Linked DNA regions of Homo sapiens. The protein of the gene in region 1 purifies or fractionates together with the protein of each later gene. This does not show direct contact. Each region holds a gene or a part of one and is shown on either strand. Other genes may lie near its edges. The genes, in order: KIFAP3, GAP43 and RAP1A.

Region 1 (3,737 bases):
TTTTGCTCTTTGGACATATTTAAGACAGTTGATTTAAAGTCTTTGATAAGTCCAGTGTTTGTGCTGTAGCATGGACAGTTTCTGTTAATTTTTTTTATTGTGAGAATGAGAATGAGTTTCTTGTTTCTTTGCATGTTTCATATTTTGTTTTGTTGAAAACTGGGTATTTTGAATATTATGGTATCCAAAGGAAAAAAAGAAAAGAAAAAAATACTCTTCAGATCTTTGTAGGTTGACTCAGTGTTTGGATATGGCTTCAACACTTAGCCAGGCAATTTACAATTTTACCTTAGCCTTCATTTGCTGCTTGCACAGAGCCTGAAGACCAGCCAGAGGTAAAAGCTTATGATCTTCCCAGGTTTTTTCTGGGTATGTATTCTGCCCTGAGCATGCTCATGGATTTCTAGATTTCTCTTTATATGCAATAGCTTTTCAAAGCATCTATTCCCCCAAAATGTCTGACTCCCTGGACTTTCCTCTTGGGCTTTCAGCTTGTGTTTTGTTTGACCCAGCTATTACTATTTATCCCAGGGGCCAGCAGCTTGTATGCTTGGCTTTCACTGATTTCAGTGACTGCATAGCTGCACTATCCTGATAAGAGTTTAAAATTAGTCAAAACAAAGGAAAGCCCCTTGCAGCTGACCTCAAAGGAAACTTCAGTCAGTTGCAAAACAATCAGACAAAATTCCTTGGGAGCAAGGTCCACTTGACTCCTCTAGAACCAAGTATTAACAGTGGGAACGTGGGCTGCCATCTTGAAGACTGCCACTGTGCTTGAGAGTGGGGTGGATGTCTAGGGTAAGTGAAAAGACCATAATGATCGCCTACCTTGTTTCTGTAACCTTTCTTCTGATTAAACATTCACTTGGTTGCTGTAAACCTTTGACTGTCTTCCAGAGTTCTGATGAGGTTGATTGTGATAGGTTTTTTTTGCCAAGTTTTTAGTGCTTCTGGGGAGTGCCAGCCTCTAGAGGTCCCTACTCTGCCGTTTTCACTGATGTCACTTAGCCATTATCTTTTCATATATTGCTCTGTACCCATTCTCTCTCACCTTTTTTCTGGGACTTCAAGTACATATGCTAGACCTACTCAGTATGCATTGCTGAATTATACTTTTGCTTGTGTTTTACATCTTTTTGTCTCTATGTTTTATTCTGGGTGTTTTCTTCTGACTTATATTTTATGCCATAAATTATCTCCTTACCCGTATCTAATCTGCTATTAAACCTATTTATTTATTATTATTCTTAATTTTGGTTATTGTATTTTTAATTCTAGAAATTTAAAAAAATTATCTAGTTTTTTCTGAAGATGACTATTCTTTGAGTATCATATATAGGAATATAAATGTATAAATAATCATTTGAGGCTCAGGATGATGTTCTCTTTTTCCAGAGAAGATTATATTTTATTTATGTTAGTAAGGATTACTGAAAATTTAGGGTCACCTTAATTAGTTCTCAGAGATTCAATTACATTAAACTGGGCTTTTTAGTCTTGTTGGTGACCGATCTGCATCTGTTTCACAGTTACTCCTAGGAGGTAGTCCTCCTGTTTCAAGCTTAAAGCTTGGAGCTTTACCAGAGCCACTGTTGTTTGGTGCACTCTAGAATCCAGTTTTTGTGTCTCTAGCCTCATGTGATTATTAAAAGATTCTCAACCTCTCAGCCCTCTCTTTTCAGTTAGCAGATACCTCTAGGGAAAAGTAGCCTCAAATTCAAGATTTACCTCTCTTCATTTTCTTTTTCTCCTGGATCTTGGCACTGTAATTTTTTGTGCCTTTTTAGTTCTCTTATGGCCTCAAACAGATACACACATACGTGTTTTTGCCCCCAGCTTTTAAGATTTTCTTAGAAGGTGCATTGGTTTGAATTACCTTAATCCTCTGTTTCTCTATTACCAAGTCTAATGTTAGTAATAGAAATATAAAACTTGTTTTGGTTTTACCAATATGAAAAGCATCAGGAATTATAAATATTTGAGTACATATAAGAGATTATTTCCCTCTTAATTTTTTAAAAATACATATGACTTGAAAGCAAAAATTATGAAATTTTTGTGTGAGTTTATAAGGTATGTACACATAATGCATATGACAGCTATAACATAAAGAATGGGGGGGGGGGTGTAGGCAATAGACCTGCAATTTGTGAAGTAGCACAGCATTAATTCTTAAATACCTTGTGAAAAAAAAAAGGTAACTAAAACATTGTTTTTCCTAAAGCAACCACCAAAAACAGTTTTTAAAAGTATAGTGAAAACATCTACACAAAATGGAATTTAAAAAATAATAATTCACAAGGCTGTTAGGAAAATAATCAAAGTATAGTTGGGCCAAACAGGAAATAAAAATGAAGTGATAGATCTGAATCTAAGTATGTCAGTCATTGCATTAAATGATCCAAAACAATAATGTCCAATAGAACTTTCTTCCCTGATGGAAATGACTTACAGCTGCATCATCAAATACATAGCCACTGGCTGTATGGCTAATGAACACTTTGAACGTGGTTAGTACAGCTAAGGAATTGCATTTTTAATTATTTTTAAAATGTAATGTATTTAAATTTAATTTTAAATAGACCCATGTAGCTAGTGACTATTGTATCAGACAGCATAGGTTTTAATGTTCCAATGGAAAGGCAGAGATTACCAATATTTCTTTTTTTTTTTTTTTTTTTTTTTTTTGAGGTGGAGTCTTGCTCTGTCGCCCAGGCTGGAGGGCAGTGGCATGATCTTGGCTCACTGCAAGCTCCGCCTCCCGGGTTCACGCCATTCTCCTGCCTCAGCCTCCCAAGTAGCTGGGACTACAGGTGCCCGCCACCATGCCCAGCTAATTTTTTGTATTTTTTAGTAGAGACAGGGTTTCACCATGTTAGCCAGGATGGTCTCGATCTCCTGACCTCATGATCCACCCACCTCGGCTTCCCAAAATGCTGGGATTACAGGCGTGAGCCACTGCGCCCGGCCACCAATATTTCTTTTATAAAGAAAAAAGAAAAGCAAGACCCAACTATCTGTCATCCCCAAAAAATATACTTTTAAGTATGGACATGGTAAGTTAATGGTAAATGGGTGCAATCAAACAGTAAGCATAAGAATGCTAAAATGACCATATTAATGTCAGATAAAATAGGCTTTAAGAAAACGTATACTGTAAAAACTACAGAGGAGTATTTCATACTGATAAAATCTGCTACATCCAGACAGTTTTAAAGTCAAATTCTAACAAAATTTTTGGGAAACAGATGCTTCCAATTATGTACAACTCTTCCAAGAAGTCTAGAAAAAAAAGGATACTCCTCAACTAATTTATATTAAGATTTTAGAATAATCTCCATATGAAAGTCAGAAAAAGGACATTAGAAAGGAAAATTGCAGGCTGAATGAGCAAGGATGCAAATTTAATCTAACAGTGCTTTAAGACAGCATTAACAAGTTGTGCTTATTCTAAGAATATGAGTATGGTTTTATGTATTTAATGAATTTGATGTAGTATATTTATGAATTAAAGAAGAACAATACATGATCCTCCAATGGATGCAGAAAAACATTTGATGACATTCACTACACATTCATGATTTAAGGAAAAAACTAAAGCCATAAATAAAAGGGAATTATGATATAAACATATTAAATGAGGAAACTAGCCAGGTGTGTTGGCTCATGCCTGTCATCCCAGCACTTTGGGAGGCTGAGGCTGGTGGATCGCTTGAGCCCAGGAGTTCAAGACTAGC
Region 2 (2,474 bases), on another chromosome or scaffold:
TGATTTTATGCTCCCTGATAGTTTACTAATATGCTAGCTTGTGGAAAAAGAATTCATTTGCTCTGAAACAACTTGTGTTGCCAAACAATCAACTCCCTGTGTCAGTGTCCCCCAAGACCACCCCTAGGTTCAGTGATTTGCTAGGAGGACTCATGGGACTCAGCATGCAGTCTGCTTCATAACTAAAATTTATTGCAGCGAAAAAACACAAAGCAAAATAAGCAAAGCTGAAAGTTGCGCATGGGCAAAGTTTGGAGGAAACCAAACAAATTTCTAAGAGTCTTCTCCCCATGGAGTCACCCAGGATGTGCTTAATTCTTTCAGCAATAAATTACCATAACACATGGAAGATGTCATCTATTAGGGAAGTTTAACTGAGTGAGTTTGCACTGGTAATAGGTCATGTAGGCACCCTCCAGCAAGCAGGTACAAAATTCAGACTCCCAGAAGAAAAATAGATGTTCAGCATAAACCACATTGTTTGTACTATGATTTTAGGCACCTGGAACCACTCTTATCAGTTAAGGAATGATGAGAATCTTCTCAAAATCCAAGATCCCAGATGCCAGCCAATGGTCAACTTTACAAACAAGCCTTTCTAAGGATAGCAGTCCCAGGCCTACTGTATTAACTGTTTTTTTTTTTCCTCAATCCCTGATATTGACGATGCCTCTGTCTTAAAATGGAGCTATTGTTATTGCTTGTCCTCCTCTTAACAACTACTAGGTGCTGATTATTCTTGGAAAGGTAAACTGGAGTCCATGTAATTTTGTTAGGCTAACAAATTTGTGTTTAATTAGAAGATAACAGACATAGCTTGAAAGCACTTGAGCAAGGAACATAATACAGCTATGCTTTGAGGAGATTAAACTAGGAATACTAAATAAAATAGTTTTACTGTACATAGATGTTGAGATTAGAGAAATGGGGTCATTAAGGAGACCATTAAAAGAGCTCATCAAAATGTATGTCTCTTTTAAATCAGCCAGCTACATATTTACATTCAGATGAAGCTGAACATTTATACCCACCATTATTAAACAAATTTATGGAATTTCTTCTCTGAAATACCTATCAAAAAACATTCTTTTAGAGCTCTTCAGTAGCAGAAATGCTTATTTTTTGAAAATAGGTTAGGTTTTTAGAATCTAACTAGACTAGTCTGGTAAATAAAGTAAGCAGCTACGATGGGTAATTTTACCTTATAATACTCACTTTTGACCAGGGTTTTAAAGTCTGACTTATTTTATAGGGTTCATAACTCACTATAAGCTATTCATAAAATATAGCTATTCTAGTGATGCTACCTACTACTACTTATAAGATTTTTTTAAGGCTATAGCTTTCCAAAGTGACTGTAATTACCTGTTGAACACAGTGCACCTATCCAAGTTTTGCATGAAACTAACTCAATTCTGATCATTATAATACACTATGCATCAGCAGTATTCCTCAGGAATTACAAAAATTTTGGTGTGCTAATGAGGTATTTAATTTTCTACCAGAAGAAAGATTCCAGATTTATTTCAGTGAAGTCCTTCTAAAACAATTAGGAATTCTTTTGGAGAGTTTGCTTGGTTCCCTAACCCTGCTCAAACCTTTGGATATTACAAGTATGCCCAAGGTAGTTTACCATCCTTATCAGTTCCAAGAAGCAATGTTTTTAGTGCCCTTTTCAAACTGCAAAATAAACATAATATTGATTTACACAACCCAGAAACATATAGAAAGATAGTAGTTATAGGAACAAGAGAAGACTTCAAATCTCTCCTTCCAAAATAAAGACATGGGAGCTATTATGTATGCTTAGAGGGAGATTAGGAAATGAGAGAAAAAGGGAAGTAGACTGGGAAAGGTGAGAATTGCATGTTTGTTGAATAAAGGGAATAAAACTCAAAAATGCAGAAACAGAAACTTGAACATTCAGATGGTTCTGAGATGCAGCTACACTTTCTGTTCCCTTGTTGGAATACAATCAAGCTAAATCCTCCCAAATTCTCCCACTTTCTCTTGTCATCCATTGCCTGGTCCTAGGACAAAAGACGAAATTTGGCACAAATCTGTTTATTATGACAGGAAATTATGAAGCTCTATTGAGAGAGCCTCAATATATATTCATTTTCTCAAATGCTTCAAAGTATTTTAAATGTAAATATTTATTAATTTATTTGTTCAATAAGTTGTTACTGGACACCTGCACTGTGCCAGGCATTCTTCTAGGTACTGAGAAAAAAAAAAAAAAAAGCAAAATCCTTGCTCTCCTTAAAGCCTTTCATAATATACCTTTAAAAGACAATAAAATTCAGGCTGGGTGCGGTGGCTCACACCTGTAATCCCAGCACTTTGGGAGGCTGAGATGGGTGGATCACCTGAGGTCAGGAGTTCGGGACCAGCTTGGCCAAAATGGTGAAACCCCGTCGCTACTAAAAATATAAAAGTAGCTGGGCATAGTGGCATGTGCCTATAATCCCAGC
Region 3 (3,600 bases), about 58 Mb from region 1:
GCCACATCCAGTGTTCAAATTCTCAGTCCTTATCTTACTAATTTCAGCAGTATCTGATAAGACTCTTCACTCTCTCCTTCCTGAAACAATTATCTTGTTTTCCAACGCTTCACCTTCTCTTGGTGTTTCTCCTGCCCTGACTGGTAGCGCCTCCTTTTCTACTTAACCTTCAAGTGTTGGAGTGCCTCTTGGTCCTTTCCTTCAGCTATCTCCCCTCCCCATGTGATCCTAACTAGACTTAAGACTTAAAAAGTATCTATTTGCTAATGAATCCCAAATGTATCTCTCTAGACTCATATATCGATTGTTTATTCAATATCTCCATTTGGATGTATAACAGACACCTTAAACATAACATGTGTAAGAAAAGACTCTTGATTTCCCCATCCCCAAATCTGCTCCTCCATTTCATTAAGTGGCACCGCCATTAACTCAGTCATCAGGCCCGAACCTAAGAATCAACTCTTGATTTCTTTTTGTTCTTTCACACACTATGCCCCAAATCCAAATCCATTCCAATCAAAATGTATCTAAATAAAATAAAATAAAATAAAATAGCCTTCTTCTCATCCTGTCCGTGGCTGCCAGGCTAGTTAGTCCAAGCTACCTTACTGGTATCCCAAGGACATCTGTGCTTCTCCATTGTGTATTTTACACACATCAGCAAGACTAACTTTTAACAACATGAATCAGATGCGGTCATTCCTCGGCTCACCCTTCTCTCATGGTTTCCCGTTCCTGTTATAATGGCCCACAGGCTTCACTGGATCTGGCCAAGCCTAGCTGGTACTGCTCTCGGGCTGGCTGACGCTGCTCAGCCATGCCGGCCTTTCACTGTTTCTGCAACATGGCAGGCGTATCCCCACCTCTGGGTTTATGGCTGATTTTCTCTCAGCTTGGAAAGGCTATTCCTCCTCCAGGCCCGCGTGTTTGCAAGACTTATTCCTTCATCCCGTGTGTATGCGCTCAAAGGTCTTCTTTGAGAGGCAGTATCTCACCAGGTGTAAAGTCACCCTATCCTCTGCTTTATTTTTCTCCACACCACTTATCACTACCTGCAATTTTTGTCACTTGTTTGTTGTCTGTCTCCCCTCTCTCACTCCACCAGCATGCAAGCTGCAAGAGGGTCTTTGCCTGTCTATGACTTTAAACCTCTGCGCTTAGTTAGAACAGCGCCTGGAACCTAACAGGTGCTCAATTAGGGCTTGTCGAATGATTGAGTTCCCTCCAAATTCTCTTCTTGAATCTTTGGACCCTTCCTCATCTTTTTTCCGGTCTTACCCACCTCCCATCCCGCCCTACGCAAAGCTAAAACTCCCCGCCCCTTCCCGGTAGCTCCAGGCTTTCCCGGCTCCAGTGTGCGCGGCTCCTTTAAGCGGACTCCGGAACGCCGTGGGGAAGGCGGGGCCGAAGCCCAGCCATCGCCAACTTGGAGGGGCGGGGCAGAACCAGGGGGCGGGGCCTGCGTGGTGCGTGCGTGCGCGTTCTGGAGGAGGCGCCGCCGCCGCTCCCGAGGCCCCTGCCGCCGCCGCTCCCGCTGCTGTCGCCGCGCAGAGCCGGAGCAGGAGCCACGGCCGAGAGGAGGGAGGAGGAGGAGGAGGAGGTGGAGGAGGTGGAGGAGGTGGAGGAGGCGCCGGACCGGGGGGGTGAGTAAGGGGCGGGGAGCTCCAGACGGCCCCAGAGGGAGCGGGGGGCGCGGGTCGGCCGAGCCGAGGGTGAGGCGGCTCATGTCGCCGGTCAGTCGCCTGGCTCCCCCTTCCTCCTCCGCGTTCCATCGGTGTCGGGGCGGCGGCCCGGGGGCCTGGCCGGCGGGAGGGGCCGGAGATCTGGGAGGCCCGGCCGCCGCCAGGGCCAGAGCCAACCACGCCCGCGGACCGACCCGGTCGACTGTAGGCCTGCGGGAGACCGTCGGGAGGGGCCCCGGCCGGCTGTGGGAGAGAAAGAGGACATTGTGTCCCCCACCCTTCAGCTCCCCGAGGTGTCATAGCACAAGCCCATTTCCCTCGCCGTCTCCCCAGACACGGTGCCCTCGTACCTCACTGCCTGAGAGAAGTAGAAGGTTGGACATCGCTGCCTTCCTCCTCTTGCATGTCCCCTGTCTAGGGTCAGAGCTTCCTTCAAACCCAGCTCTCCCTTTTGGGCCCGCGGGGGCGGGGGGGAGGGACACACGGGGAACGGGGTTGGAGGGTTGGGTGAATTCTCTGTCCTCTGCTGTAGGAGTGCGGGTAGACTGGAGCATTGCTGTCTCCGGGCTCACTTCTGTCAGGGTTCAGGGTCTCCCTTTCCTTCCTTTATTCCCCCAGTTAATAGGGCTGACATCTACATCCCACTCCACCTTCCAGCCCCTTTCCCGCCTTCTTTACCCTCATGTCTTCCGTAGCTTACCATGTGTTCGCCTTTTCAGTGTTACTTTTCATGGGTCTCTGCTTCTTCCCTGAATTTTGTTAGGGAAGAGGTCACGGTGTGATTCTTGTTATCCTTCAAACTAGCGGCTTGGTAAGAGTATCTCTTGCCCCCTTAATCAGGAAGTTAAGGACGGTGTCTTCAGCCGAGTTGTGTAATTTACTGCTACGGGGAGAAGATGAGAGGAAGACATTTGTGCCTACAAAATGGGATCTCCTCTTAGGGCTGAGAACCAGAGTTTAGGGAACCTTTGACCTCTTGGAAAAAGAACTGCCATTGAGGAGTAATGCATTCTGTTTTGGGAGGGAAAATCATTTTGTTACTTCTTTGAAGGGAGGAGGTATAAGAAATGAAATAGAATAATAGAGCAGAAGGTCAATGAGCCACAGCCCTACAGGTAGCCAGCCACTCTTCTTAGGTGGCGGATGATGTTTTTGTTTTGATTACAGTAAGAATAAAGTATCAGCTCTTAGATTTAACTTGGGGCTCCTACCTTCAAAAGCATGAAGGGCCGTCTCAGAAGAGATGCTGCTGGAAACAGGATTTGGAAACTTTCTTTGGGTTTCCTGTCAGAATGTGTGGGGGTGGACATGCCTATGTGTAGTTTTTCTTTCCTTGTGATGTAATTTATTTCTGTGATACTTTGACATAATAAGCATTAAATTAGGCCCCAGACTTTCTGTCTTTATTATGCTTTCCTATAACATTGTTGTTTTGAAATCATATAGTTCGATATTCTTTTGTAGCGTGATATTTCAGTGAATCCTGTCTAGTTTTCTTGGTGTTTTAAATTATGGCCTACTTCAGATACGATTAGCTGTTAGGTATTGAGGATCATACGTGTTAAGTATTTGTTGAATGAATTGAATGATTACAAAGATGAGTCTAGTTATTAAATCTTCTGTCCTTTTGAGAGGTACCCTATATTAGGATACTGCAGTCCATTTCCAGTTTGTAAGATAGTAATTCTTAACCTTTTCTAGGCCACTGACACCTTTGAGAATATGATGAAATATATAAACTCTCTCCCCAGAATAAAGTTAATAGGCATTTATTCACAAAATTTTGCATTAGTTTTAGGGACCCTCTGAGGCCAACCATGAACTTATGTCTTAGAAGTGAACTGGATGGAATCCCTCAGTGTTACACAGTTCCATATTAAAACAGCTCAAAAGCCTTTGTTCACTTTTTGTATGG

What was found.
Region 2: the proteins of KIFAP3 (region 1) and GAP43 purify together in Homo sapiens (affinity purification with mass spectrometry; 2 studies listed by BioGRID and IntAct, with this or other methods). This does not show direct contact.
Region 3: the proteins of KIFAP3 (region 1) and RAP1A purify together in Homo sapiens (affinity purification with mass spectrometry; 2 studies listed by BioGRID and IntAct, with this or other methods). This does not show direct contact.

What each region holds. Positions count from the first base shown.
Region 1 is NC_000001.11:170,064,565-170,068,301, reverse strand, and holds part of KIFAP3 (kinesin-associated protein 3), read left to right. Parts: exon of another isoform or gene 1-798; intron 799-3,737. UniProt on the Homo sapiens protein: Involved in tethering the chromosomes to the spindle pole and in chromosome movement. Binds to the tail domain of the KIF3A/KIF3B heterodimer to form a heterotrimeric KIF3 complex and may regulate the membrane binding of this complex.
Region 2 is NC_000003.12:115,717,440-115,719,913, reverse strand, and holds part of GAP43 (neuromodulin), read right to left. Parts: intron 1-2,474. UniProt on the Homo sapiens protein: This protein is associated with nerve growth. It is a major component of the motile 'growth cones' that form the tips of elongating axons. Plays a role in axonal and dendritic filopodia induction.
Region 3 is NC_000001.11:111,618,289-111,621,888, forward strand, and holds the start of RAP1A (ras-related protein Rap-1A precursor), read left to right. Parts: upstream 1-1,500; 5' UTR 1,501-1,646; exon of another isoform or gene 1,647-2,110; intron 2,111-3,600. UniProt on the Homo sapiens protein: Counteracts the mitogenic function of Ras, at least partly because it can interact with Ras GAPs and RAF in a competitive manner. Together with ITGB1BP1, regulates KRIT1 localization to microtubules and membranes.